3 separate regions of the Homo sapiens genome follow, and regions 1 and 3 are each linked to region 2. Evidence: fine-mapped QTL for protein levels in blood plasma. A gene starts in region 2. Each other region holds a variant in brackets. All regions are shown on one strand. Distances are from middle to middle.

What was found. PIP is the chance, under the fine-mapping model, that this variant and not a neighbour inherited with it causes the effect. The UK Biobank Pharma Proteomics Project read protein levels with antibody pairs (Olink). The fine-mapping took linkage between variants from a reference panel, not from the people measured, so its PIPs are less certain.
Region 1: its variant is fine-mapped to the plasma level of the CSF2RB protein (UK Biobank, PIP above 0.99). The variant lies in the coding sequence of CSF2RB. If it changes the protein, the assay may bind it differently, which can mimic a change of level.
Region 3: its variant is fine-mapped to the plasma level of the CSF2RB protein (UK Biobank, PIP above 0.99). The variant lies in the coding sequence of CSF2RB. If it changes the protein, the assay may bind it differently, which can mimic a change of level.

What each region holds. Positions count from the first base shown.
Region 1 is chr22:36,924,669-36,932,668 of GRCh38, reverse strand. It overlaps CSF2RB (colony stimulating factor 2 receptor subunit beta), which reads right to left. Exons shown (of 14, transcript NM_000395.3): 4 at 6,492-6,682; 5 at 3,110-3,267; 6 at 2,862-3,030; 7 at 2,159-2,294; 8 at 1,839-1,996. LOC105373023 (a long non-coding RNA gene) reads left to right here and starts at 6,726. Exons shown (of 2, transcript XR_938230.2): 1 at 6,726-6,919. RefSeq lists an enhancer at 5,966-7,165. The variant C/G (reference allele first, on the strand shown) is at 2,268.
Region 2 is chr22:36,908,129-36,918,807 of GRCh38, reverse strand. CSF2RB (colony stimulating factor 2 receptor subunit beta) reads right to left here and starts at 5,180. Exons shown (of 14, transcript NM_000395.3): 1 at 5,131-5,180. LOC105373023 (a long non-coding RNA gene) reads left to right here. Exons shown (of 2, transcript XR_938230.2): 2 at 1-336. RefSeq lists an enhancer at 6,646-7,347.
Region 3 is chr22:36,935,906-36,946,127 of GRCh38, reverse strand. CSF2RB (colony stimulating factor 2 receptor subunit beta) reads right to left here. Exons shown (of 14, transcript NM_000395.3): 13 at 9,476-9,579; 14 at 5,689-8,751. The coding sequence ends at 7,626. Among named protein-coding and RNA genes, the nearest start is that of LL22NC01-81G9.3, 24 kb to the left of the region's middle. The variant T/C (reference allele first, on the strand shown) is at 8,376.

The DNA of each region.
Region 1 (8,000 bases), 15 kb before region 2:
CACCAGACCCCAGGTTCTGCCCATGGTTGGATCCTTTTCATCCCCACTTCACTATATCATGTTTTGACCTGAGTGGTATTCTCGTGGGAGATGCTGAGATACACTTGTTTTGTAGTGATGTGGCCCAGTGCTTGCACTACTCCTATTTTTATTTTTATTTTTTGCAGTAAAAATAAAACCACTGTTAGTTGGTTCTATTCTAGGCAACTGGCTATTTTTTTTTTTTTTTTTTTTGAGACGGAGTCTCACTCTGTTGCCCAGGCTGGAGTGCAGTGGTGTGATCTTGGCTAACTGCAACCTCTGCCTCCTGGGTTCAAGTGATTCTCCTGCCTCAGCCTCCCGAGTAGCTGGGATTACAGGCACCCGCCACCAAGCCCAGCTAATTTTTGTATTTTCAGTGGAGACGGGGTTTCACCATGTTGGCCAGGCTGGTCTTGAGCTCCTGACCTCACGTGATCCACATGCCTTGGCCTCCCAAAGTGCTGGGATTACAGGCGTGAGCCACCGCGCCCAGCCTGACTATGTTTTAGCCACTGTTATACATACTTATTCTACATGAATTATTCCACTCCATTCTAACAGCCCTATATGGTGGGTACTATTAACCTTCACTTTTCACAAACAGGGAAACTGAGTCACAGAACCATTAAGTAACTTGCCCTAAGGAAAGGCAGCTAAGCAGTGGTAGAGGCAAAGATTGCAATCCCACCAGTGTGATGGGCTCTCTTGTCTGACACTCTCAGAGGTGTAGGGAGTTGACTAAAGGCCAGGACATTCACACGTTCTCATCGCCAGAAAATCCCCAATAAAGCGGCTGTAACAGGCCTTCAACAACATCTAGGTGAGGCCTCTCCCCAGCCAGATAGTGGCCAAAGAGAAAGGGAAGCCCTTTGCAGACAGCACCTCCCACCTGGCCGGCAGACCCACAACTTGAAAGAGGCAAAGGGTAAAGAAAGCAGAAACTGGGCAGGGAGTGAGAAGTTCTGAACTCTAATCTTGATCTGCCTACTAATAGCTGTGCAGCTTTAAGTAAGCCACTCAACCTCTCTGAGCTTCAGTCTACCCAAAAGAAAAAAGAGAATGCTTATAACCTTGATGCCTTCACTGTATAAACATAATATGAATGCCCGTAATTTGCTGAGGTCTCTTATGTGCCAGGCATTATATGAGGCCCTTAATATATCCTGTGCTTTTGAACAATCAGAATTCCTTTTTCCAGTGAGGATCCCAAGAGAGTTAATGGTAAATTCAAACCCAGGTAATTAAGACAAATTGGCCTCTGCCCTTCACATATGCTAAAGACTGGATGGAAGAACTTGGTCATCATGAAACAACGTGAGAGGTTCCATTGCACTGGGGTCCTTGTTACATCACAGAAACGAGGGATGTTAACCTCCAAGGATCAACACTATTTGTACACACCACAGGCTCCAGTTGAAAAGTACATCATAGATCAATTACATTAAAGATAGAATATCAGTCGGTGGGGAATTTCGGATATCAGAAAGAGGAAAATCCAATGAGGAATGAAAGGGAAGGTTTTGGTGACAGGACCAGGAGGGTGTGGCTAGCAGTGGAGATTTAGAGAGCTGCAGGATGGGAGAGGGAAGCAGAAGAAAAGGACAAGAGATCAGAGGTTTTAAAGATCTGCTCCTGTTTTTGGCCACTGCCGTCGTGGTTTCATTGCTTCTCTGTTCACTTTTGGTCACTGGACTGCATCTCTTTGAAAGTGACAAACATGAAGACGGGGCCAGGAGGAACCCTGAACTGATTCGGGTTACACAATGAGGGTGTGCTGGTCCCAGACCATCCCCACAGCGGGCTAGGAGCAAACTCACTGTTCACTGAGCTCTTTATGTGTTTCTCTGCCCTCCTTGGCTGAACAGAGACGATGTATTGGCCGTGGGTCGCGGGGTCGGGCACGGGAATCTGGCAGTGGTGCCTGGTGTGGAGGCTGCCGAGCCCCTCCCTCAGCACTGGGGAGCACTCTTCCTCCCTGAGGAGCACAGCAGAGCTGAGGGCAGGGAGAGGGAGGGCACACGGGAGGGAGGAGAGCTTAGGGTGGGCTGTGGCTTCTGCTGGGGCCCCAGGGACAGGAGGAAGCTTGGAGAGAGCAAGGCCAAGAGGAGGGGAGGGGATGGAGAAAAAAGATGCTCACCCTGCATCTGGGCTGGGCTTGTAGAATAGGCCAAAGGAGACCGAGCTGGCCACCTCCTTCCTCACCTCCCAGGAGCAGCTGAGCACGGCGGCCCCGTCAAAGAAGCACT[C/G]CAGGTTCTGGGGCTGGGCCTCATCCCCTGGGTTGGAGACAGGTCCTCATGTACTCCGTCATTCATCCCTCCCATAGCTCTCAGTGGGTGCCCACCGTGTGATTCATCACACAGAGGTCATGAGCTCTGGGGCCAAAAGACCAGGGCTGAAACTTCAGCCTGAACCTGCCAGCTGTGTGTCCAACAGCTCCGAGAGAGAGAGAGAGAGTTCTGTGCACCTGCACGCCCTCCCGGGAGAATGGAAATAGTATCTAAGTTTCAGTGTTTGGGGATTGAACTGAAAAATGTGGGTAAGCCCTGAGCATCCTGTAGCCTCCATTAACACACAGCTGCTAATAGCACTGTTGTTGTTATTATTGTAATTGCCATTGGCAGAGAACGTGCAGAAAACTGGAAACCCAAAGTGAACAGATGCAGAGTCCTACTGGTCAGTGGTCACAGTAGAGGTGGGACGGCCCAGGGACGCTACTGGAAAGATGGCAGCAGGAGATCTGGGAAGCCCCCAGGTGGAGCCCAGGAACCCTGCTGTGCCAGGAGCTCCTGATGAGCCTGCCCTCCCACCACGGGGCATTTCCTGGGCTCTGGCAACATTACCTGGCTGGGAGTCCCAGCAAACCTCTGGGCTCCACTTGCTGGGACGTCCTGAGAGCCGAGAACCTGGGGCCAGGCGGGTCCGTACTCGGGCCACGTAGGTGCTGCTGGGCATGAGGTGCTCTGGCCCCAGGGTGGCCTGGGAGGTGTTGGAGAGGAGGATGGCTGCGTCCTGTCAGGAGACAGTGGGTGCTGGAGGAGGGGTGCTGCCCATCCCTTCGGGCTGGGGCAGAGCTGGCCGTGGTTCCTACCTCCCAAGAGTCCTGAAGCCGCTTGTAGACCACCTCAAACTCCAGATCCCCTGGGGACAACCAGTGGCTCTGGGGACTCCCAAGGGCCACACTCCAGGTCAGCAGGAAGTGGTCCTGGTCGGTGCTGATCTGCAGGTCCCTGGGCTCAGGAGGCTGGACTGGAGGGGAGGAAGTGAAGGGCACCTAAGGGCTGGACCGCTGGGGGGCAGTCAGGGCCTGCATGGCCTTTTGTGTGGACACAGGGGGTTCCAGGCCACCCCTGCCCCCAGCAGCTGAGGGACCTTGAGCAAGACCCGTCTCCTCTGTGAGCCTCAGCCCTTCATCTGCAAAACTGTAGGGTTTCAACATGAAAGCAATGGAAAGCCGTGCAGATTGCAATGCGCACGTGACCCGAACTCCATAAAAAGCGCTGGCGAGGAAACTCATTGGAGCCTCCTCTGTCCTGAGGCTCCCCACTGCCCACGCTGCGGCCTGGGTGGCTCCTGCTAGCAGAGGGGCCTGCGGTTCAGCGGCCTCCCCCCTCCTGCTGTCCAAGCTCCCTTCCTCCTGCCCAGGGTCCTTCCTGTTGTCAGTGCCCCGGGCAAATGCCTCCGGCTCTAGGAACATCCTCGGATCTGCATCTCCAGGCGGAATCCCTCATTCCTTCTCTCATTTCACCATAGCTCAGTGGAATTCCCTCCACCAGGGCCTTACCACAGCTGAGGGATTCCTATGCTTCTGTGTCTGCCTCCCCTAAGGTGTGAGGAGATGGGGGTGGGTGGGATTGGTCCTGACCCCCTTCCCTACCTCCAGGCTGAGATGCGGCTTCTCAGTGAATTATGGGGCAAGGTGAATGAGTGAATGAATGAACAAATACGCGTAAGCAACTTTGGGGCTTCTCATGAAATCCTTGCAGCCACAAGGCAAGCATCTATCTCCTGGGAACTCTGGGTTGTTCAAGAAAATGCAGAATGAAGACACGGCACCTGATTTCTGGTTTCTGGTGTCTGCTTGCTGAGGGATGGCTTTCAAACGAAAACATCCTCACACATAGGATGTAAGTGCTCTCTGCTGGACATGGGTTATGGCATGCTAGAGCATGTCAGGAACCATCAACCCAGAACGGCAGACACACAGCAGGGGAACCGCCCCTCCTCACCCACAGCCAGGACAGGCGTCCCTCATGGGTCACTGCACTCCCAGCCCCCGAGGCTGTCATGGAGGGGGAGCTCTTCCCGGCAGAGCCCTCTCGGAAGCTGCCACAAACTGCGCAGACTGGGAGCCCCATCAGAAACCTGCTCAGCCAACTCAAGAGAAACCTCTTGAGTCCACCAGCTCATTTCACAGACGGAGAAACTCATAGAGGAAGTAAAATGTCCAAGGTCTCCAAACATGGAGACTCAGAGCAGATCAGATGCATGCCTGTCGCCTGCCCAGTACCTCCCAGCATCCTTGATTCATTGCTAATCTGCATTAGGCTGGACCCTACCTCGCTACTCAACACAGGCTCCAGGAGGCCAAGGGCCACACTTCTCTCCCTATATCTAAGTTGTCTCCATCGCCTTAGAAACCTTCCTTGTTTCCAGGCTGTAAGCTCCAAGGGCAGGGTTGCTGGCTGGTTTGTTGACTGCTTCGTTGGCTTATGTAGGCGCTCAAGGAAAGAAGGTTGAATGAATGAATTGTGTGTATATCTGAACTATGATTTGCATGCCCTCATGTCCCCATCTCCTAGCCAGTTGTGTCCTCATCATTTCTAGGAATGAGTGCTTTAGGCCACAGCCTGAATTTCAACTTCTTTCCCAACTAATGCTCCTCCAATCTACCCTGTAAGTCCCCTGTCCCCAGCATTCTCACATCCACATCTGATCATGTCATTTCCCCTCAGTGCTCTCCATGCCTAGAGGGTCCCCTCTACCTGAGACTGCAGGAGACAGAAGCCTCTCCAGGGACAGGTCCTTACCTGTGTCTCCTGCTTCTTCCCACCGCTGTCCAGCCCTTGAAGCTGATGCTCCCTGGACACAATGGTGAGCAGGTTCCCCAGCTGCCCATGCCCTTCTGATCCCCCAGCCTCTGCACAGCTGTTACCCTGCCAGAGAGGCTCTTACTGCCCTCCCCTCCTGTCTACCCTTCAGATCTGAGTTGCAAAGCTCTTCCCTCTGGGAAGCCTGTTCTGATCTCCCAGGGGCCCTGCCCTTTACCCCCTGCATGAGGCACCCACCCGCCACTGTCAGTAAGTTCTCACGGTGGACGGCATACAGTGTTTCCCCTCCCTCCAGCCTGGGCCCCCTGAGCTCCATTCGGGAAGGAAGGGACTCTCGTGTCCATCAAACCCATGTGTGGAAATGTTGCTTCTGATGGACTCCTGGTGGCCTAACTGATCCCCTCCTCTGGCAGTGGCTTTATGATGTTGTGGCAAAAAAGGGCAGGAAGCCATGGTCAGAGCCCCTTCCGTGTGACCCTTGCAAAGAGCACCAGGTGGTTCGGTGGTTAGGACCGGGGACTCAGACCATCCTGCACTGGATCTCAGCTCTGCCAGCAGCAGTAGAGAGGCCTTGGACTAGTCACCTCCCTCTGTCTCCGTTTCAGCAGCAGCCAAAGGCACCAATAACAGCACCAAGCCTGCCGTGGTTCTGAGACTCCCAATGACAGCCTGCAGTACCTCCTACCAGCCTGCCACCAGCATGGGTTTTTGCCACGTCAACGAAAACTTTCATAAAACGTGTCCCTTTTCAGGTTTAGCTTCATTCTAAGCAACCATTTCCTTGAATCCAGGACTTCGAAGTGCAGGTTATATTTCTTTCTAATATAGAGGCAAATAAAACCTAACTACATAAAATAATCATCTACCCCACCCTAGACCACAGATGGCTTCATGGACCACTGTGGGATTTCGGCCCACACCGGGGCCCCTCCTCCAGGGCAGCGAGGAGACAAGCTCCCTGTCTACCATGCAGGAAGCCCCCGGGAAGGCTGACCCCATCTCTGTCATTACTGCTCAGCTGTGGGACTTCAGAGGAGGCATCTGACCTCCTGGGCCTCAAGGGCCACATCCAGGAAATGGGTTGCTTCAGAGATGAGATGAAACAACTAAGCGGACAGAGTTTTCTAACTTGGTAGGTTTCTAAGTGAGTGGTGAGAACGGTTTTCTTCAAGACAAGCCTGCAGTGCTGGAAGCCCATGGCTTAGTGGGAGGTGGTAGCAGCCAGGGGCACAGGAGAAGCCTTTGTCAGGGGCCCCTCTGCTCTGAAGTCTCCATGTAACCAGACCATACCCTCATCCCTCAAGAAACCCTCACCCAACCCCAAGCCACAGCCTTCTGCCTTGAAGACTCCCTGGACCACCCCTGGTGCCCCCGCTGTCCACACAGGAAACCAAGCCCCGGGCAGGGCCCCCAGCCCCTCACCATGCTGGGTCAGAGTGACGGTGAGCCGGGTGCCCAGAGGCCTGTCTGGTTGGAATGAGAAGTAGTCAACGTCAGTGACGACAAAACTCTGGCAGGGAATGACACATCTCCTGGGCACGCAGCGGGGATGGGGGCAGGCTGACCAGGGCATGTCATCACTGAGGTCACAGGACACTGGCTCCAGGAGGTCCCTGTTGGGAGAGGACACGGCTTAGCCCAGGGTGTATGGGTATCACTGACTCACGAAAGGTTCCTCGAGTGCTCACCACATGCCTGGCTCTGTTCAGAATCAGGGGCCAGCAGTGATAAAACACACAAAAATCCTGCCCACGGAGCTGCCATCCTGGGAGAAGGGGACCCGCATGGAACAAAGTGTGTAGCGTGTGCAGTGGAGAGAACTTCATGTGGAAAAATAAAGCAAGAAGCAGGTGAGGAGGGAGGAAGGGCTGGGCCAGGGAGGCAATTTGAAATATGGGACAAGCAGGCTTCTCTAAGGAGGTGACCTGGGGGCAGAATGTTAAAGGCATTGAGGGAGGGACTGTGCAAATTGTGAGGATTTCAGGAAATGGGAACAGCACGTGCAAAGGCCCTGGGACAGGCAGAGTTTGGTGTGCTGCGTGGCTTGGCCTAAAACCAGTGCGCAGGGAGTAGAGCGTGTGATAGGGAGGTCTAGGAGACCCATCCATCTACATGATGGGATTGGATCTCACTGCGAGTGAGTGGGAAACAGTCATGAGCAGAGGTGTTGTAGATTTTGATAAATGCTTTGAAAGGATTCCTGAGGGTCCTCGGTTGCGAATAGACTGAGGTGGGAATGTGGCAATGTTGGAAGCAGGGAGCCCAGTTACGAGGCTTCTGGAATATTCAGGTGACAGGAAGTGGCGTGCAACAGGGTGGTCAGGCTGGCGTGGGTGAGATTCATGTTCTGCTTGAGATAAGGTTGGCAGCATTTGCTGGTGGAGGGATGTAGCAGTCAGGAAGGAATGGTGACAAAAGAGACTTAAAAACAAAACAAAATCCTCCCTGTTGTTTAGTTTGAGCCACTAGGAGCTCCCATTTAGAAAGGGAGATGGGGAAGACAGAGGCAGCAGCGCAGCTCGGGTGAGAGCGGGACTTTGGTTGAGGACGTTTGGAGTCGGAGACACCTGTTGTCTAAGTGACAGGTGGAGAGGCCAGTACGCCTGGAGGGCTGGAGCTTAGGGGAATTGTGGGCTTGAGGTCACCTTTGGGAGATGCCCCAGGGGCCTGAGGGGGTCTCTGCAGAGTGGATACAGCAGAGAGGAGGTCCATGGACTGGGCCTGGGTGTCTTGCCATCAGGAGGCAGCAGACAAGGAGAAAGAGGAGGATGGGCAGGGCCCCGGGGGCACTGGGTGAGCTGTGGGCAGAGTCAGGTGCAAGAGAAACTGCAGGGAGGCCGCGGTGGTCCTCCTTGTCAGGGGCTGCCCCTGGTCAAGTAGGAAGAAGGCGGAGGCCCAACCATGAGATCCTGCTCCCTGGGACATTTGCTG
Region 2 (10,679 bases):
GCAACCATACTAGCCTGAAACTGCTACCTCTGGGCATCTTTTATATGCTGGGAAAAAGAAACTTCTATGTTGTTAAGCCTCTGTTGCTTAGGGATTTTCCATGTGCAGCCAAACAGATACAACAGCAAATGGGGAAAGCTTCACAGGGCTTTCAAGGAGACAAGAGGCCACTCAATAAAGAACAAGACTCCTTTTTAAAATATTTTTCAAAGACAGTAAGGAATCTGTATTCAAGGGGGGAGGCTACTACGATGAGGTTTTGTAGTAGGGGACAGAGATCAGGGTTAACTCCCAAGATTCCTTTTAATAAAGCCATGCCTAGTTCTCACTGGTAAACTTTTCGTCTTGCAAGAATATGAGGATGATCCCAGAAATGCTTCCAGAAGAAAACAAATAGGATACTTTGAATGCAACAAGGGTCAGATTGGCTAAAGATTTCACATAAGAGACTCTGAACTTTAAATAGATGTCTTGAAAATACCAAGGGAAAATTATGCTTAAACCTAGAATCACAAAATGCCAAGTTTTCTTTGACATTTAAAGGACACAAAAAATTTTGAGTATGTAAGGACAAAGAAAGTTTTTCAGATCTTTTCTGAAAGAAATTACTCTAGGTTATATTTCAGGAAAAAAAAATCCAAGAAAGCTGAAATACTGAGGTAAATAAACCTGTAACACTTACAGATAAGTTAAAGAAGAATATTGAACTAAAACTCAGATGATTTTAATGTGGGAGTTTGCTGTGAGGCTGGGGTGGAGAATGGAAGAGAACTGAAAACTTGCTAAAGATCTCCTCTTGTTTTGGAAGATCATATATGTGCTAAATAAACCCAAATGCTGGTAGCAAATATGGTTTCTTTAAAAAAAATACTATTTTTTTTTTTTGAGACAGAATCTCACCCCATCACCCAGGCTGGAGTGCAATGGCATGATCTCGGCTCACTGCAATCTCTGCCTCCGGGGTTCAAGCGACTCTTGTGACTTAGCCTCCCAAGTAGCTGGGACTACAGGCATGCACCACCACGCCTGGCTAGTTTTTGTATCTTTAGTAGAGGCTGGGTTTCACCATGTTGGCCAGGTTGGTCTCAACTCCTGGCCTCAAGTGATCTGCCCACCTTGGCCTCCCAAAGTGCTGGGATTACAGGCGTGAGCCACTGTGCCCGACCCAGAAAATATAAGTTCAATACATTTTAAATCCCTAAAAACATAAAGATTAAAAATCACTAAGAATGAAGAGTAAGCATGGGGACAGGAGGATGACAGAGAAGGGATGGGAGGGACAGAGAAAGGAAGAGAGAGAAAAGAGAAGAGAAAAACCAAACACCTTCTTACTCAAAATAAACATGCACATATTACATTCCCAAGCTCATGAAGAAATTGAATGGCAGGGATAAACATTCCCAAGCTTATGAAGAAATTGAATGGCAGGGATAAAAACTAGGGGGGAAAAGCAAAATACAAATTCACTCCAGACAAAAACAATTTCATAGGTCAACCTGACAAAGACTTTTAAAAGAAGAAGACATCATGGCCAAGTAGAGGGTACTCCATACATGGAAGGAGAACCCTTAAGAAACCTATTTATGATTCAAACAAACAGATGAACGGATTAAAAGGGAAAAAAGGATAAGCTGATCTTGACAGACACTCCTAAATATTTAATAATAAACAAGACATTTCTGGTTAAATGAACAAACAAACCCTGGCAAATGAAGCAGTGGCGGAAACGTTGGCATCACTGAAAGTCTGCCAGAAACCAAAGGCGATGACAGAGTCAAGGGGGCACGTTAGTGTCCTCCTGTCAAAGCCTCACACAGGAGGCTCTCACTATTGTCTTTACTTCCAGTGGTCAATGTCCCTCAGATCATCTCTAAATTCAATGCAATCAACATGAAAATTCCAAAAAGGAATTTAATGGGCTTGGCAAACTGATTTTTATTTTTATTTTTGAGTTGGAGTCTCACTCTGTTGCCCAGGCTGGAGTGCAGTGGCGTGATCTCGGCTCACTGCAAACTTTGCCTCCTGGGTTCAAGCAGTTCTCCCACTTCAGCATCCCAAGTAGCTGGGATTACAGGTGCACACCACCAAACCCGGCTAATTTTTCGTATTTTTAGTAGACATGGGGTTTCACCGTGTTGGCCAGGCTGGTCTTGAACGTCCAACTTCAAGGGATCTGCCTGCCTCAGCCTCCCAAAGTGCTGGGATTATAGGCATGAGCCACTGTGCCTGGCCTTGGCAAACTGATTCTAAATTATAACAAACCAGAGATGAGAGACTTGCTCCATTCGTTAGAAAAATAATAAGGAATGTAGTGACAGCCAAATGGAAGAGAAAACAATAAAGAAAATAACGAAGTATGTATAGAAGCCTAGGATGTAATAGGGGCACTTCAAATCATTGAAGAGAGGAGAAATCACACACTCATAATTAGCAATGTTAAGACAATTAGATGGTAATTATTTTTAAAAGTTACTTTACACATTACTCACTTCTCTAAATTCTAGGTGGGCTAAAAATCTCAAAGTCAAAACCAAAATAGTAAAATTATTAAAACTCTTTCTGTAATCTTAGAGGTTTCAAGACACCAAACCAGAAACCATAAAGTAAAAAGAGGTTTACAAGACACCTGTGATCTTAGAGGTTTACAAGACACCAAAATCAGAAACCATAAAGTAAAAAGTAATGACAGGTTTGACTTAACAATGAAAACATTTTTATATGACATAAGACATCTTAAACATGGTAAAGAAAAAGATAAGTCATAACCTGGGAGAATATATTTTCAACATATATAAATGGATTATTAATACACGTAATAAATGAGTCACTCCAAAAGTTAAGATGTAAAAGAGAATTCAACAGGAGATGAACAAAAATTTCTCCACATTCATCATAAATGAAATCCAAAAGGCCAATCCACATATAGAAAATGTACAACTTCACCCATAATCAGGGAAAGAAAAAAATCACGCGACATTGAGAATTTCCATACATAATATTGGACAAAATTAGAAGATTGATAATTTCTCTAAAGGTAAATTGGACCCTTTATGCACTACCTTGGGGACGTCAGCTTAGCTCAGCTACTTTGAGGCTGATTTGACAATACCTATTATAATTTCTAACGCACAACCTCTGCACAGCAATTCTGCATTTAGTAATTTAGGCTACAGAAACACTTTCACAGATGTGGAAAAATTAGAAACAATCTAGGTGTCGATCAACGTGAGATTAGATGAATTGTGGTGTACCCATCCTAATAAATGCCACATATTTCTTAGGGTTACTTAACGAGTTAAATCTGTATGTATTATTGTAGAAATTTGGAAATATTCCAAAATACAATATTAAGTGAAAAAATTAGGAATATATATATATATATATAAATAAAATAATCCCATTTCTGTAAAAAGAAAAACTACCATCCTGGCACAGTGGCTCAAGCCTGTAATCCCAGCATTTTGGGAGGCTGAGACAGGCGGATCATCTGAGGTCAGGAGTTCGAGACCAGCCTGGCCAATATGGTGAAACCCTGTCTCTACTAAAAATACAAAAATTAGCCACGTGTGGTGGCTCATGCCTGTAATCCCGGCTACTCAGGAGGCTGAGGCAGGAGAATCACCTGAACCCGGGAGGCAGAGGTTGCAGTGAGCCAAGATTGCACCACTGCATTCCAGCCTGGGCGACAAGAGTAAAACTCTGTCACAAAAACAAAACAAAACAAAACAAAAAACAAACAGGAAAAGAAAAACTATATGCTTGTATCATGCTTAGAAAATGTTCTGGAAGAATACATGTGGTGAAAAGAATAAGCTATGGAACTAGGGAAAAGAAATTGCTGGGGACTTTGTCTCTTGTGCTACATAATTCTAGATTATTCTAATTTTCATGAAGGTAGGTTTCTGTGTAGTTGCTTGTTTAGCATTAAATACATTCCTTATACAACTCATGAATTATCCTGTGGTGTTGGTATATCTGTATACTGGAACAATATAAATAAAACTGCTGGATGAAAAAAAGAGTGACCAAAAGCTAATAGGAAATGTTTACTCATTATAAAATGATTACAAAGCAGGAAAGATGATAGAAAAAAATTAGAATTGGGCTGTACAAAAATATAACAGCAGGGTTTTTGAAGACTAAAAATTGCACATATGCAGCTTGTCGCTAGCACCTGTCTGACAAGGTCCCAGTGAAACACCTGCCCTTTCATTCTCAGGGCCAGTACACACACCTGCACACACCCTGAAGCAGGCACCCCAGATACCCACCCACCCAGCCAGCATACTTGGGTACAGAACACACACACCTGGGCCCCAACCCAAATCAGCAACCCAAATCAGCAGGGCAGAGTGTCATAACTAAAAAGACAGACAGACAGAGAGAGAGACTGAGAGAGAGAGAGAGAGAGAGAGAGATTGCTGGATAGTGCCTGGTATGTCTCTGGGCAAAGTGCTGGGCTCTTTCTCAAGTTCAAAGTGAGCTTCTCAAGCCACACCGCACCCAGCTCTGGGCCTCAGCGCAGCAAGCTTCCAGGTTTCACCCTCTGCCTCTTAGTCTCTCTGCACTCCTGCATCCCCAGACATCCGCACATGCACATACACACACAGGCACACACACAAATGCACACACGGGCAAACACACGAGCATGCGTTCTCTCTCTTTCTAAACCAAGATGTCAGGGACTATCCATGCTCCCCATTCCACAGATGAGGAGACAGAAGCCCAGGGTGGACAGGGGGTGCTCTCACTACCACCAGCATCTTAGTGACAAAGCGAAGACAGACTATAGGTGCCTGACTCCCAGGCCTGAGCTCTCTTCACCCCACTAGGCGTCCTTCCCACCAGGACCAACCAGATCCCGCTAGCGAGGCTGAGTCCTCCCCAGAGCTCTCCTACAACACCCAAGCAGCTTGGCACCCCTGGCTGCCTCCCCATCCACTGGCCGCCCTAGGAGTCTGGGCTCAGGTCATCCTAAGAGGCCAAGCCCTAACTCCTCCAAGTCCCCAGGGCACAGCTACCCACAGGACGCCCCCCAGGCTCCCCCTGTCCTTTTTCATCCTGGACTCCCCACATTCCCCCCTGCTCTGACCCCACCCCTCAGCCCTGCTCCTGGACGCCGGGCCATACCTCTGTGTGGTGGGAGAGACCAGTCTTCTTCTGGAGCCTCTAGGCAGAGTGAGCCTCCCACGTTTCCTATTTATGTTGATGTCATCAGGAAACAGAGAAGCAGAAAGAGGAAGCAGTGCCGGCCCAGGCCTACTTTGCTAATAGTGCACGTGACTTTTCTTACTTCCAGAAAGCCTCCTACTCCAATTTACCTTCCTATAAACTCCTAGGCCTCCTTCAAGCCTCAGCTGACGCAGGGCCTCCTCCATGCAGCCTTCCCTGACTGCTTGATGGGGATGCAGGTGGAAGTGGCTGCAATAACCATAGCTGGTTTGAGCCCAGAGCCAGACAGATCTGTGTTGGACTTCCAAGTCCACTGCTTCTTAAAGCGTGTCCTTGTGCAAATCATCTGCGTGTTACTTCCCCAAGCCTCGGGACATCCATCTGTCTGTTACTTTTGCAGAAGCATCTACAAACCTGGAAGGACTGTTGAGGGAATCCAGTGAGATTCTGTGCAGGAAGACCTTAGCTCAGAGCTGGCCACAGGAGAACCCCCTACAAGTGGTAGCTGGTGGCATGTTGATTTCCCCGATGTCCTCTTTGCCCTGCCGCCCCACCCCACCATGTGTCATATGGTCATGTGTGTTCATGGCTGTCTTTCTTCTGACACTATCTTCAGTGCTGGCTTGTGTCCGGCTTGCACTTCCCTCCCAAATACCTAGCACATGGCCTGGTACAGAGGAGAAATTGCACCTTTGACTGTGTGCAAATGAATAGATGAATGAATGAATGAATGAATGAATGAATGAATGAATGAGTGGCTCCCTGAGCACAGCAGGGCCAGCAGAATTAAGGTCAGGTGAGTGAGGCAGTCTCTCGTGCTCAAAATTTAAACAGGCATTTAAAAATTCAGTAATTGTTGTAAGTAATATTTTAATGCAATATGGTTTAAAAAAATCCCAACTGATGCAGAAACTATTCACGGTGAACCAAATATGAAAAGTTTGAATAAAGACAAGATGAATCACAGTGCCAAGACACAACAAAACGCAGTCATATTTCTCCTACATGGGGCTGCCTCCCAGGAGAAAGGGCAGCAGGCAGGAATGAGGGGAATGGAGGGCAAGAATGAGGGGAATGGAGGAAATGGAGGGGCAGGAACCTGCCTCGAAGCCACTGGAATTCTGGCCTGATTGTTGTTCTTTGCTTTCCTCCTACCAGGAAGGGCAGGGTTGGCCAGGAAGAGCTGGCAGGGCCTCACCCTAGCAGAGAAAGCCCAGGGTAGAGGAAGGCATGTGTGGTTCTCTCAGGCACTCCGGTCAGTGTGAGGTCCCTGCCTGGCATGGAAAAACCCTGCAGGGGCTTCTCCAGGGCTGGAGAGGATGGAATTAAAGTGACGTCCCGGGCTCTCTTTTCTCCCAGGTGTCCCCACTCTGCCTGTCTTTGCTGAGGTCCTCTGTGGGACTGGGAGGCTGCGGGCCTGGATGCCCTCAGGAGCACAGAGGATGCTGTCTGGTGGAGAAACGAAGAACCCGAGACTCTGAGTCAAAATCACTCCGGACACCAGACCCAAAATGTGAAGGAGCTTTAGGAACACCTCAGCCAATTCACTTGACTGACCCTTTCCTTTTAAAAGTCATCATAGAGCAGCAGGGGATAAAAATCTACATTTGAATGAGTCTAACAGAGTTCTCTCAATAAGTATTAAAAGTTCTAAGCGAGAAGAATCACACCGTCAGGAATTCATTGAATGTTTTCGTTTGTTTGTTTGTTTTTTCCTTCAGTGGTATGTAAAATACCGTGTCTTGCAATTGACGATCTTTTAGAGACTAAGAAACCCAAGAAAATGTTGGCAAGAACGTAGTACTCATAATGACCAGGGCTTGAGCATTTACGCTGTGAGCAGACCTTCGGCTGGGGGCTTCTCCATCTCTTCCCAATAACCTTTATGTAGCTGTTACTGTCTTCACCTTACAGATGAAGAAATTGAGGCATGAAAAGGAAGATAACTTGTTGAAAGTAGTAACTCGTATATGTTAACATTGCATTTTTTTCCATTTCCATTTTTATTCTGAAACTATTTCAAAATACAGAGCGTTAAAGGAATGATACAAAGAACTCTCACATACCCTTCATGTGGAAACCCCCTTTGAGTTTCGCTAAGCTTCTCAATAATGGTTTTGTAACAAGAAAATCCATCCGGGACTTTGCATTCTCTCTAAATGCATGGCTCTTAGTTGCCATGTCTTTCGGGCCTCCAGTTTGAAACAGATGCCTTGTTTTTTCCTCGACATCTCGAAGACTGCAGGTTGGTTGTTTTGAATAATGTCCCTCGATTTGGCTCTGTCTGATGATTAGAACTGGGTTATGCTTTTTTGGCCAAAATAGCACAGAAGTGATGCTGGATTATTCTTGGTGAGTCCTATTAGCTTTCATTGTCAATCTGTCCCATCACTAATGTCGTTCGCTCTGATCATTTGATTAACTTGACACCAATCAAGTTTCTCTATTGTAAAGTTACTTCCCCTTCCACATCGTAATTTATAAGCATTTGGTAGGGAGATACTTTTAAGCTTTCTCATCCCACTCCCACACTTGTATAATTTCAGTATGCAATGATGTTCCTTAATTTAATTAAACATTATCATGATGATCATTGCCAAATGGTGACTTTTAAAAATTCTGTCATTCAGAAGTCCTAGCCAGAGCAATCTAACAAGAGAAAGAAATAAAAGACATCCAAATAGGAAAAGAAGAAGTCAAACTTTCTCTCTTCCTTGATGATATGATTTTATACCTAGAAAACCCTAAAGACTCCACCAAAAGTCCCCGGGAACTGATGAACAACTTCTATAAAGTTGGAAACAAAATCAATGTGCACAAATCAGTAGTATTTCTGTGCACCAATAAAGTTCAAGCTGAGAGCCAAATCAAGAATGCAATCCCATTTGCAATAGTCACACACACACACACACAAATAAAATACTTAGGAATGCAGCTAAGCAAGGTCATAAAAGATCTCTACAAGGAGAACCACAAAGCACTGGTAAAAGACATCATAGATGACACAAACAATTGGAAAAACATTCCATGCTCATGGATTGGAAGAATCAGTATCATTACAATGGCCATACACCCAAAGCATTCCACAAACTCAATGCTATTCCTGTCAAACTACCACTGTCATTTTTCACAGAATTAGAAAAAACTATTCTAAAATTCATATGGAACCAAAAAAAAGCTCGAATAGCCAAAACAATCCTGAGCCAAAAGAACAAAGCCTGAGGCATCACATTACACAAATTAAAACTATACTAAGGCTACAATAATCGAAGCAGCATAGCACTGGTATAAAAACAGACACATAGACCAATGGAACACAGAAATAAAGCTGAATACCCGCAGCCATCTGATCTTCAACAAAGCTGACAGAAATAAGCAATGGGGGAAGCACTCCCTATTCAATAAATGGTGATACGATAGCTGGCCAGCCATACACAAAAGAATGAAACTGGACCCTTACCTTTCACCATATACAAAAATTAACTCAAGATGGATTAAAAGTTTAAATGTAGGACCTCAAATTATAAGAATCCTAGAAGAAAACCTAGGAAGCACCACTCTAGACATCATTCTTGGGGAAAAATTTATGACTAAGTTCTTAAAAGCAATTGCAATATAAACAAAAATTGACAAGTGGGTCCTAAGTAAACTAAAAAGCTTCTGCACAGCAAAGGACACTATCAACAGAGTAAACAGACAACCTACAGAATGGGAGAAAATATTCGCACACTGCATGCAGCAAGGGTCTAATATTCAGAATCTGTACAGAACTTAGGCAATTCAGCAAGCAAAAAATAAAATAAAATAAAATAACCCCAATAAAAAGTGGGCAAAAGAAATGAACAGACACTTCTCCAAAGAAGACATACAAGCAGCCAACAGATATGAAAAATGCTCAATATCACTAATCATCAGAGAGATGCAAATCAAAACCACAATGAGATGCTATCTCACATCAGTTGGAATGACTATTATTAAAAAGTCATAAAACAATAGACGCTGGTGAGGCAGCAGAGAAAAGCAAATGCTTATATGCTATTGATAGGAATGTAAATTAGTTCAGCCATTGTGGAAAGCAGTTTGGAGATTTCTTAAAAAACTTAAAGCAGAACAACCATTTGACCCAGCAATCCCATTACTGAGTATATATCCAAAAAGACACCTGTGCTCGTATGTTCATTGCGGCACTATTCACAATAGCAAAGACATGGAATCAACCTGGTTGCCCGTTAACAGTGGACTGGATAAAGGAAATGCGGTATATATACACCCACGGAATACTACACAGCCATAAAAAGAATGAAATATGTCCTTTGCAGCAGCATAGATGCAGCTGGAAGCCATTATCCTAAGCAAATTAATGCAGGAACAGAAAACCAAATACTGTATATTTTCACTTATAAGTGGGAGCTAAACATTGGGTGCTAATGGGCATAAAGATGGCAACAATAGACACAGGGAACTACTTAGAGGGGTGAGGCAGAGAGGCAAGGATTGAAGAACTAACTACCCGGGTACTACACTTACCATGTGGTTTGGGATATGAATTATCATTTTTCACAGAATTAGAAAAAACTATTCTAAAATGCTAAAGTATTATGAGATAACAAAGGGGCACGTACACCCCCTGAGTCTAAAATAAAAGTTGCTATTGTTAAATAAATAAATAAATAAAATGTCACCATTCCTTTTGTATTTAATAGTTGGCATTCTACCTAAGGAAGAGTTTGTTTTCCTTCTTGTGTTCTTTGTTAACTTATATAATCAGTGTGGACTCACGGATTTCTATTTTATTAAATGGCTTACAGTCAGTACCTACCATGATTTATTTTAATGCTCAAATCATGCCAACTTTGGCCAGTGACAGCTCCTTCAAATGGGCTCCTGTGTCCTTTTCAATGATCCCCATCGTTCTTTAAGACCTCCCTGACTTTCAGGCAGCATGAAATGCTCATCTCCTCTCCTATTTACCTTGCCCTGGGCTCGGACTTGGGAATTTTCTCCAAGGGGCTTGGGTTCCTCATAGTAGAGAATGGTATTTAGAGCCAAGATACACACACAAGGTGATCTTGCTCCCTGCTGCCCAAGTGTCACTGTCCTCAGGTCTCTCACTGGACAGAGCCAGAGAATGAATGAACAAATGCGTATATTGTACTTACAGCTATATTTTTTTTCTTTTTTTGAGACGGAGTATTGCTCTTGTTGCCCAGGCTGGAGTTCAATGGCACGATCTCGGCTCATTGCAACTTCTGCCTCCCAGGTTCAAGCCATTCTCCTGCCTCAGCCTCCCAAGTAGCTGGGATTACAGGCATGCACCACCACGCCCGGCTAATTTTTTTTTTTTTTTTTTTTGTAGAGACGGGGTTTCACCATGTTGGTCAGGCTGGTCTTGAACTCCTGACTTCAAGTGATCCACCTGCCTCGGCCTCCCAAAGTGCTGGGATTACAGGCTTGAGCCACCACGTCCGACCAGCTGTATTTATTTCTATACCTATCATTTTGAAAAC
Region 3 (10,222 bases), 28 kb before region 2:
TTAAGTATTGATACAGTTGGCCAGGTGCGTTGGCTCACGCCTGTCATCCCAGCACTTTGGGAGGCCGAGGCAGGTGGATCACGAGTTCAGGAGATCGAGACCATCCTGGCTAACACGGTGAAACCCCGTCTCTATTAAAAATACAAAACATTAGCTGGGCGTGGTGGTGGGCACCTGTAGTCCCAGCTACTCGGGAGGCTGAGGCAGGAGAATGGGGTGAACCCAGGAGGTGGAGCTTGCAGTGAGCCGAGATCGTGGCACTGGGTGACAGAGTGAGACTCCATCTCAAAAAAAAAAAAAAAAAAAGATACAGTTTGGCTCTGTGTCCCGACCCAAATCTCATCTTGAATTATACTCCCATAATTCCCATGTGTTGTGGGAGGGACCTAGTGGGAGATAATCGAATCATGGGGACAGTTTCCTCCATACTATTCTCTTGGTAGTGAATAAGTCTCACAAGATCTGATGGTTTTATCAGGGGTTTCTGCTTTTGCGCCTTCCTCATTCTCTCTTTGCCTGCTGCCAACCATGTAAGATGGGACTTGCTCCTCCTTGCCCTCCACCATGATTGTGAGGCTTCCCCAGCCACGTGGAACTGCAAGTCCAATTAAACCTCTTTCTTTTGTAAATTGCCCAGACTTGGGTATGTCTTTATCAGCAGCATGAAAACAGACTAATACAAAAATTATGCTAAATCTACTCTGCCTGTGTTTTGGAAATGGATCAGTAAAGGCTGACAGCACATCTGTTTACAGCATGGTTTAGGAATATTTTAAGTTCACTGTTGAGATATAATGCTCAGAAAATATATTTCTTTCAATATATTACTGCTTATTGCCAATGTACCTGGTCACCCAAGAGCTCTGATGAAGATACACAAGATTAATGTCGTTTTCATGTCTGTGAACATAACAGTTATTATGCAGCCCTTGGATCAAGGAGAAATTCCTGCTTTCAAGACTTGTTATTTAAGAAACACATTTCCTAAGGCTATAGCTGTCATAGACAGTGATTCTTCTGATGGATCTGAGCCAAGTAAATTGAAAACCTTCTAGAAAGGGTTCACTACTCTAGATATCATTCAGAACATTTGCGATTCATGGAAGGAGGTCAAAACATCAACACTAACAGGGTTTGGAAGATGTCAATTACAACTCTTATGGATGACTTTGAGGGATTCAAGACTTCAGGGGAGGAAGGAACTGCAGATGTAGTGGAAATAGAAAGAAAACTAGAATTAGAAGTACGGCCTGAAGATGTGACTGAATTGCTGCAATCTCATGATAAAACTTGAACAGGTGAGGAGCTGCTTCTTACAGAGGAGCAAAGAAAGTGGTTTCTTGAGATAGAATCTACTCCTGGTAAAGATGCTGTGAACATGTTGAAATAACAACAAAGGATGAAGAATATTAAATCAACTTAGTTGACAAAGCAGCAGCAGGGTTTAAGAAGATTAACTTCAATTTGGAAAGAAATGCTATCAAATAACATTGCATGCTACCAATAAAAATTTCATGAAAGGATGAGTCCATTGATGCAGCAAACTCCATTGGTGGCCAATCACAAAATTGCCACAGCCTTCAACACAACCCCAGCCTTCAACAACCACCACTCCGCTCAGTCAGCAGCTATCAACATCATGGCAAGAACCCCCAGCAGCAAAAAGATGACAACTTGAAGGCTCACATGACTGTTAGCATTATTTTTTTTAAGCAGCAAAGCATTTTAAATTGCAGTATGTACATTGTTTTTTAGATATAATGCTCTTGCACACTCAATATACTACAGTATCCAGCAATTAGTCACATTTCTTCACTGTCTACAGCCCTTAGCCGAATAGTTGAGTCATCTCAATGGGGATGTCAAAGCAAACTAAATATGGCCTGAGAAGGACTCTGTACTTCCATATTTGAGTCCTTGTGGATGAACTACAACCTAACTTAATAGGTAGACAGGATTGAAAACCTAACTTAGGAGTATGCGTCTGTAACAATCACTGAGTTTTGGCCAATCCCAGCAGATAAACTTCAACAACTCATACGCTGCTGAGCGTTCAAACTGTGTTCAAATAAGGCAATCGCCAATCTGTAACCAATCCAGCTGTTTCTGTACCTCAGTTCTGATTTCTGTATGTCACTTTTTTTTTTGTCTATAAATTTGTTCTGCCCATGAGGCACCCCTGGAGTCTTTCTGAATCTGCTGTGATTCTGGGGGCTGCCCAATTCACGAATTGTTTATTGCTCAATTAAACTCCTTTAAATTTAATTCAGCTGAAGTTTTTAACAGGAAGATAGAGGACAGAGAATGACAAATTTCCAGAACCAGCCAGCAAGAAACACTTTTAACACACACACACACACACACACACACACACACACACACACTAGCAGATGCACTGCGTCTGAGCTGGGCATTGAAGCCTGAAGTGAGCCTGGCAGTAGCTGGGCTCAGGGAGCTCTCAGTCTAGTTGGAACACAAAGCTGTGAGCCAGGAATTACAAGATGGGTAATAAAGGCAGGGGGACAAAGTTGAGTGGCAGGACAGAGAGGCTGAGACATGCTCTGTGATAGAAGCAGGAGGTGGACAAATGCCTATGCAGATGGGGCAGGTCCTCCGTGAAACCCCACCTCCAAGCCAAAGACAGTTTAAAGCCTGAAAGCCAAGCTACAAGTTAAATCATCCGACTGGACTGGATTGAGAACTTGTCTTTCTGTTTGGCATGCTTACCTCTGATTAGTCCTCACCCTTCACCTATTTTACATATACCTCCCTACCCTTTCCTAATTGGTTTTCTTACACCATTGTGCACAGCTTTGAGTGGTGTTGTCACTTTAACCTTTTTTGCATACTCACAAACCAATCAGCATACACTCCTCATTTTGAATCCATAAAGGGCCCCAGACCGAGCCACGTGGCAAAACCTCCCCCTACACCCCACCTCCCACCCCTGAATCCCCTTTCCACGGAAAGCCATTTTCATCACTCAATAAAATTATTCTCAGCCCTCCTCACCCTCCAATGTCCAGTATATCTTCATTCTTCTTGGGCGAGGTACAAGGGCTCAGGAACCACTGAACATGGGTACAAGTTATACAAGTTATACGCGATAGCGTGGCCGAGTGAGACCTGGGCAAGGCATCACTGACTGGGGGCCCCGGCTTGCAAAGTGACCAAGAAGAAAAGTCCTACATCGTTTGGGAAGACTTGGGGATTTCCAAGGGAGCTGGAGGGGCTGTGTTCTAAGAAGAACCCACACTTGAGTTAGGACTTGTAGGGTGACTCTGTCCCTGGTGGAGTCCTGATAAATAAGCAACAATGAGGAAGAGGCCCCAGGTTGGGGAGGGCCCCAAGTGGGGAGAAAAGTCATCAATTATTCTCAGAGACAGCTAATCACAAACAACCAGGCACAACAACCTCGTTCTGCTTGTTCTGCATGTAGCCCTCTTCAACGTGACTCTATGAAACTTCCCTTCAGCCACTGCCTCTTTGCAGACAGCCCCTTCTCTGCTCATTGTAATTGCGACCTTGCAACGTATTTTCATACCTTCTCTAATAAATCTGCCTTTCTTTACCTACAACTGGCTTGGTAAATTCCTTTACCTCCTGTGCCACCAGACCCAGAGAGTTGCTACCTGCGTCACTGGGTAGATGAAGTTACCCCTGCTCAGGACACCCAGCATGACCCATGGCCCAAATCACCGCATTTCAATGCTTTGGGCACACTGACCCTGCACCCGGGCTGCCCAGCTTCTATTGATTGAGCACCACCGGATGCAGGTTGCCTTGTTGGGGTTGGGAAAGGATTGTTTCCAAACGAAGGAAAGGCTCCCTCTAGGAGCAAACGATTGTCTTGGTGCAAGGGTTCTGTGTGATCAATTAAACACGTGAAATGCTTGTGAGGCCCAAGCTGCTGATGGTCTCCAGCCCTGCTCCTTCCTTATGTAGTGTGTTCTCAGGGTTCCCCACCATGAAGGGCTCCGGGACTGGCCATTTCCACCCAACATGGGCTCTTCCAACAGGCAATTCATCCCCCAAGTTCCCCATGGGGGGACAAATGTCAACTCTGGATGGCCAATGGCTTCCCTAGCCCACTTCTGCTTCCTGCCCTCCCTTTCATCCCCCTAATAAGTTTTTTGTTCTCCTCCATCTTAGGGACAGCCTCCTGCAGGCCTTGCTCACCTCAATGATCACCTACTACATGCATGGCTCTGGGCTGGGTTCTCAGGGGAAGACAGATGAGGGAGCTGCAGTCCTCCAGGGAAGGTCTCTCTGGACTCCAATGGGTGAGAATTGCACCTTCAGTGTTCAGCTCCCAGATAAACAGACACTTTTCAGGGTCACCTCTGATTCAATCTCCCCCTGCCACCAAATCAATTTATTTGGTTTATGGATTTTTCTGTCTTGCCAACCAACATGGATCATCTTACATCTCCGTATGGATCTTTAGGTGAGAGACTTACCTTTTGAGGGCAGGCTCTGAGACACAGGGCTACAGTTCAAATCTTGGCTCTGCCCCTTACCTGCTGGCAGACCTGGGGCAAGTTGTATGACATCTCTGTGCCTTAGTTTCCTCAATGACAAAAATGATAAAGATAGTATCTTCCACTTCCATAGTATCTAAATGAATTGATCTTAGAGGTCACTCGAATGGGGCCTGCCAGGAATAAGCTCTCGATCACTCTCAGTTATTTGTATGGGGAACTCAGTCTCTATTTAGTTTTTCACTCTCATGACTAGGGAAAAATACAGGACGTTCAGTTGTGTTGGAATTTCAGATAATAATGAACGATTTTTTAAAAGTGTGTTCTTTATCCTCCTTTCCCTCACTGTCTTTCCTCTTCCCTCATCCCTCCTGGATTTTCCCAGGAGTGCCCTGCGTCTCCCTCCATTGCGTGGTGTTCCACACGCCATCATGTACCCACTGTAGTGCCCCAAAGACCAAAGGCCCTTCTGTTTGGCAGAATTCATTTCCTTGTGTTATAGGAATTATTAAAAAATTATTTGAGGCAGATAAAGAGGAAAAGTGGTCCTTGGGAAGTTTTCGTTTCTGTTTTAAAAGCAGCTCCAAAAAACGTTTCTTGTCTAGCAGGAAAGCCCCGGCTCTTAGAATCAGGCTGGCAACCTTTGATATGCAAATGCAGACCGTTAGAAACTGGGTCCACCCAAACATGGGGATTCCCGCCATCTTTTCCTTGTCCCCATGTTTGCCTGGCAATATGGCCACCCCCACATAGTCCCACCTGTGTAGAACATCATGGCGCCCTGCATTTGCATATTAAAATGCTAGGGTGAAAGGGCCAGGTTTTTCAGGGGTTACATGAATGACATGCCTGGTCAAACCAATCCCCTGAGCCCTATGCAAATCAGATACTGCCTTCTCTAGCCTCCTCATATAACTGGCTTATTTCTGTGGCACTCAGGGTTTCCTCTCTCAGCTTTGGATCCCCCCTCCCTCTGTCTCTGTACAGGGGAGCTTCTTCCTTCTTTCTTGCCTATTAAACTCTCCACTCCTTAAAACCACTCCATGTGTTTCCGTGTCGTTTTATTTAAATCGGCGCAAGACTAAGGACCCTGGTGTTCCTCCAGTCACTGGAGCTGTATCACTTACAATAGCAATTGAGGTTTCAAAGAGCAACCCCTTCCTCCAACTACACCAACATGCACACACAAATTCAGGGTTTCACTTTGTTTTATGTTACAAATATTTTATTGCAATTTTTTCCCTTTAACAATGTCTGGATATTTTGGAATTAATATCTCGGACTTCTTTCTAATCCACATTGGTTCATCTTGTTCATTATGAACAGAGGATTCTACTTTACAATGTACTAAAATGTTGTTATGTATTTCAGGACCATTGAACATTCAAGTTGTTTATCATTTTCTTTGACCACCAACATTGCTGTAATGAATAGGGATTTAAGAGCAAAAGTAACGAGAATACTTGCTTAACCACTTATGAAAACATATCATAAAAGTAGAACAATCAAAATGGTGGATGCCATAGAGAAAGCAAGGTAACAAAATAGGAAGCCTAGGGACCAATAAAGTATATATACAAGGATTTCCTATATCACAAAAGTAACACTTCAGGTACATGGAAAAAGAATTTCAGTACCAAAAGGCACCTCAGTCTCACATCCACACATTCAAAAATAATTAAAATTTTACATGAAAAGTTGGAAACACAAAATGAACTAGAAAAACAATATATAAATTAGGACAAACACTGCTTTGCAATGGGAGGACCTTTGTAAATCTGACAGTAAAAGTGAAGAAGGAGTTTACTAGGGATCTGTTTGACATTACAGAAGCATTCATATTCATACACCATAAAACCTCATATACAACATTATAAGACAAACAACAGATTTGGGGGAAAAACACTCCACCATCTGTGAAAGACTGTATGTCAATAGTCAAAAAGACTTAATCAGAAAATGATAGCACCCAACAGAAGAAAGACCTTAATGGGCTTGGCCCAGTTAAAAAATACCAATCGATGCCTAAGATACCTATAAAAATATGTGCAAACTGGATAACTAAAATAATGCAAATTAAAGCAATTTAATGCCATTATTTTTCCTGTATCTGAAAGGCAAAGATTTAAAAGAACCATAATCCCTGGTGCAGGCCCAGGCATAGATCAGCAGCCCCTCATCTGTGGCCGGTGGGAGGGAGAGTTGCCTGGTCTATCTGGAAGAGTGGCCACCCGGGCCATTTGGACCAAAGGCCCTAAAGCATATATGCCTTTGGGGCATTTTCCTTTGTTTGGCAGTTTCCCCTGACTTTTCCGCAGTAGACGTGGGCTCTGGACTCCTCTCCTGATGTTCCCCAGGTCCCGCCAGCCTGCCCACCACTTGGGCCGTTAACTTCTCTACATGACGTGGGGTCTCAAGGGACTGGAGGTCCCACAGACATCACTGAGACAACTAGCAGGGCTCCCCAGAAGCTCCCAAACAGTCTCTCATGTGCGTCCCTTGCACCGCCCCCCCGACCCCCAATACCATGCCCATTTCTCGGAGTGACAATCGAGGCTAGTCTGAATTCCCTGAGCCTCACTGAGCGTGCCCAGTCCTGTGCCACTCTTCCAAGCCCTAACCCCCACGGGTGCCCACCTGGTGCCTCCCACCTCTGCACCCAGATGAGAATCATGTCATGTGCATCAGCGACTGCCGGGGACAGGCAGCCCACACAAGTCCTCAACACAACCAGCCGCATCTCAGTCTGATAAGGCTCAGCTCAGACCTCAGCCCCACTCTCATAATAAATCAGTGAAAAAAGAAGGAAGAAAAATGGCAAAAGCAAGGAAACCTGATTAAAAAAATGAGGGGGAGATGGAATGAGTATATCTAGAAAGTTCTAATAATGCAGAACCTACAAATAAGTTAACCTGACAGGAAAAATGTGTGCATGTACGTGTGTGTGTGTGTGTCTGTGTGAGCGCAGGGAGAGAAGTGATTTGCTGAAGGTCAAGGGGGCCGGAGCAAGGCTATCTCCTTTCCCAGGCCTCTAGCTACCTTGACAGGAGGCTGCCCCTTGGCTTTGCAGAAATGACTGAGGAAGGTCAGGCGGGAGGGAAGGCAAGCCCTCTCCATCCCCTTGCCTGTCTAGGCCTGGGGGTCTCAACACACCTCCCCAGGCTTGTTGACCTCCCAAGGGGGCAGAGACAGGTAGTCCTGCTGCTTCAGGGCTTTGAAGAGCTGAATGACGGGCACCTGGGGCACAGCCTGGCCTGGGGGCTTCTTGACTTGAAAAGCCTGGTCTAGGTTCTTGATCTCAGGACCGGGTCCCGGGGAAGAAGGTTTACTCCGGAGCGAGAGAGGGCCGGGCCCCAGGCCGGGGAGGAAGCAATAGTCGCCCACTTGCTGCAGGACAAGGAGGCCCTCGGGCTGTGGGGATGTTGGGGACACATCTGCCGGGCGTTCCCCTGGGTTCAGGACAGGGCTTTTGGCCTCAGGGGGGACAGGATTGTTCCTTGGTGACCTGGGGGACCGGCCCTCAATTGGAGGGAGCTCCACATAGCCCTCAAACCCTGACTTCACAGGGCCTGGGGCTCCAGGGGGTCCACTGGCCAGCCCAGGACATAAGCTGGGGGTCTGGTCTGAGGGGAGGCCCAGAGAGGGAACTAGGGAGACAGACGAGGCCCCTGAGTTTGGGGTGAATACCAGGTCTGCAGAGGAGACATAACCAGAGGCCACTCCAGGGTCCTCAGTGTCCCCAGAGCTCATGGGTATAGCCACAGGGCTGTCCTTTTGGTCCTGTCCTCCCACCCTTGGCCCAAGAGCAGGAGGGGCAGGGCCTCCCCCGGACTCCAGGGAGGGACTCCCTGCAGCCCCCTGGCTCGGCCTTCTCTCCACTTCCACGGCCTGTCC[T/C]GGTCCCATCGCCTGGGCCAGAGGGACCAGTTGCACCTGCCCCCCAGCAGGCAGACACAGGTACTCCAGGGACCCTGGAGGTGGGGACTTCTGGCTCCCACCCTCCTGTGGGGGCTCCGGCTGGCCCAGGATGTCAGGTAGGGAGCGGCTGTGGGGCGGCCCCAGGTAGGGCCCATTGAAGTCAAAGCTGGAAGCCTGTTTCTCAGGTGTGTGGGAGGCGGCAGGCGGGCCTGGCTGGGGGCTGGGGGGCTGCTCTGTGGGTAGATCTGAGGCAGCTGGAGTCGTGTCAGGCCCAGATGGTGGATCACAGACATGCTTGGGGTCCTCTATGGTGAGAGGTGACACCTCGCTGTCCCCGAATCCTACAGGGAACACCCTGTGGGAAGAAAATGGGCAGAAGAGTTGGGACCACCCTGGGCAGATGATCCGGGTCAGGCACAAGGGTCTTGGTGGGGTGGAGATGGTTCTCTGGAAGCCCTGATGTCCCCCAGATCTCACAGAGAGAACCTGAACGGGACAGGGTTGAGGGAGCAGGGGCCCCAGAGAAGGACATGGGACATGGATTCAGTCTTTCCGTGGCTCAGGAGCTCCATCCTCCATGCTGAGCTCAAGGTCTTCCTCTGCAAGGCTGGTACCCTCTCCCTTTTGACCTTAAAGTCCATCCTCCTTCAGCACCAGGCTCATGCCCAGCCTGTGCACTGGGCAACCCTTCCATCATTCTATCAACCATGCCACCCCCTTCTCCCTGCCGAGTTGGTGGTCAGCTGCCGGCTCAGGCGCCGAGTTCCCGGGAGTCTGCAGCCCCAGCTACCCCATGAGGCCTCTGCAGTGTGACGCCTCTGAGGCAGCCAGGGAGGGGAAGGCCAACTGTTTCCCTCTTTCACTTCCGGTCACTCCCCTTGTCTGGCACTTCCTTACCTGGAAAGAGGAAGTTCTTCCTCACATCCCCCCCAGGTGCCTCCTGCTTTAGTGCAAACCAGCTCCCTTGGATCCCTTCACAGTGAGCCACAGGCAGCCTCACTTGAGTCCCTGATTTCCACAATGGAGTCAGCCCCCCGTATGAACCCCAAAGGTCAGGAGTGATCCACGAGCCCACTCACCCCTCCAGCTCAGGGAAGCGGCTGCCCCACGGCCCCTGGTGTGGGGGACTCCCGCTAGTGAAGGCCGACATGCTGCCTGGGGGCCAAAGCTCTGCGCTCCCGTTCTGCAAGAGCAGAGACATTTGGGCCGGTGAGCATCAGGAGGTCCGAGGTGGGGGCAAGGCAGAGGGTGACGGGGGTGCAGGAGGATTCAAGGAGCCCCCAGACAAGAGAAGAATCTCCACTTCTTCAGGACTGGCCACGGCCTTTTGACACCAGCAAAGTGAGGCCCAGAGAGGGGCGGGGACTTCCCCCATGTCCCTGCTACCTGAGGACAGGGCCCTTTTCCTGTGATTTTTCTAACCTGGAGTGCCTGTCTCCATGCTCACCCCCATTTCTCCTCCACACCAGCCAAGAGACCCCTCCACAGGCAAAGCTGGCCCTGCCTGCCTGACTATAGGGCTCCCATCACCCACACGCTGGTGTCTTCCCCATGGTCATCTCAGCCTCCCAACATGGCCCCCAGCCTCCTGTCCCACCCCTTCAGCTCCCTTCCTGAAGGGTTTCTGTCTCCACCCTCAAGATGCCCTGAGCCAGAGCAACTTTTGCCACCTGGCACCACTGGGACCCTCAAAGCTCAGCCCAGGTATCTTGTCCTTGGGGAGCCCTTCTGCCTCCTGACACCCCATCCATCCTGGTAGCAGGAACCCCCTCTGTGAGCCCACCCTGTCCCAGGCATCCCCACACTCAGTTCTCTCCACTGGGCTC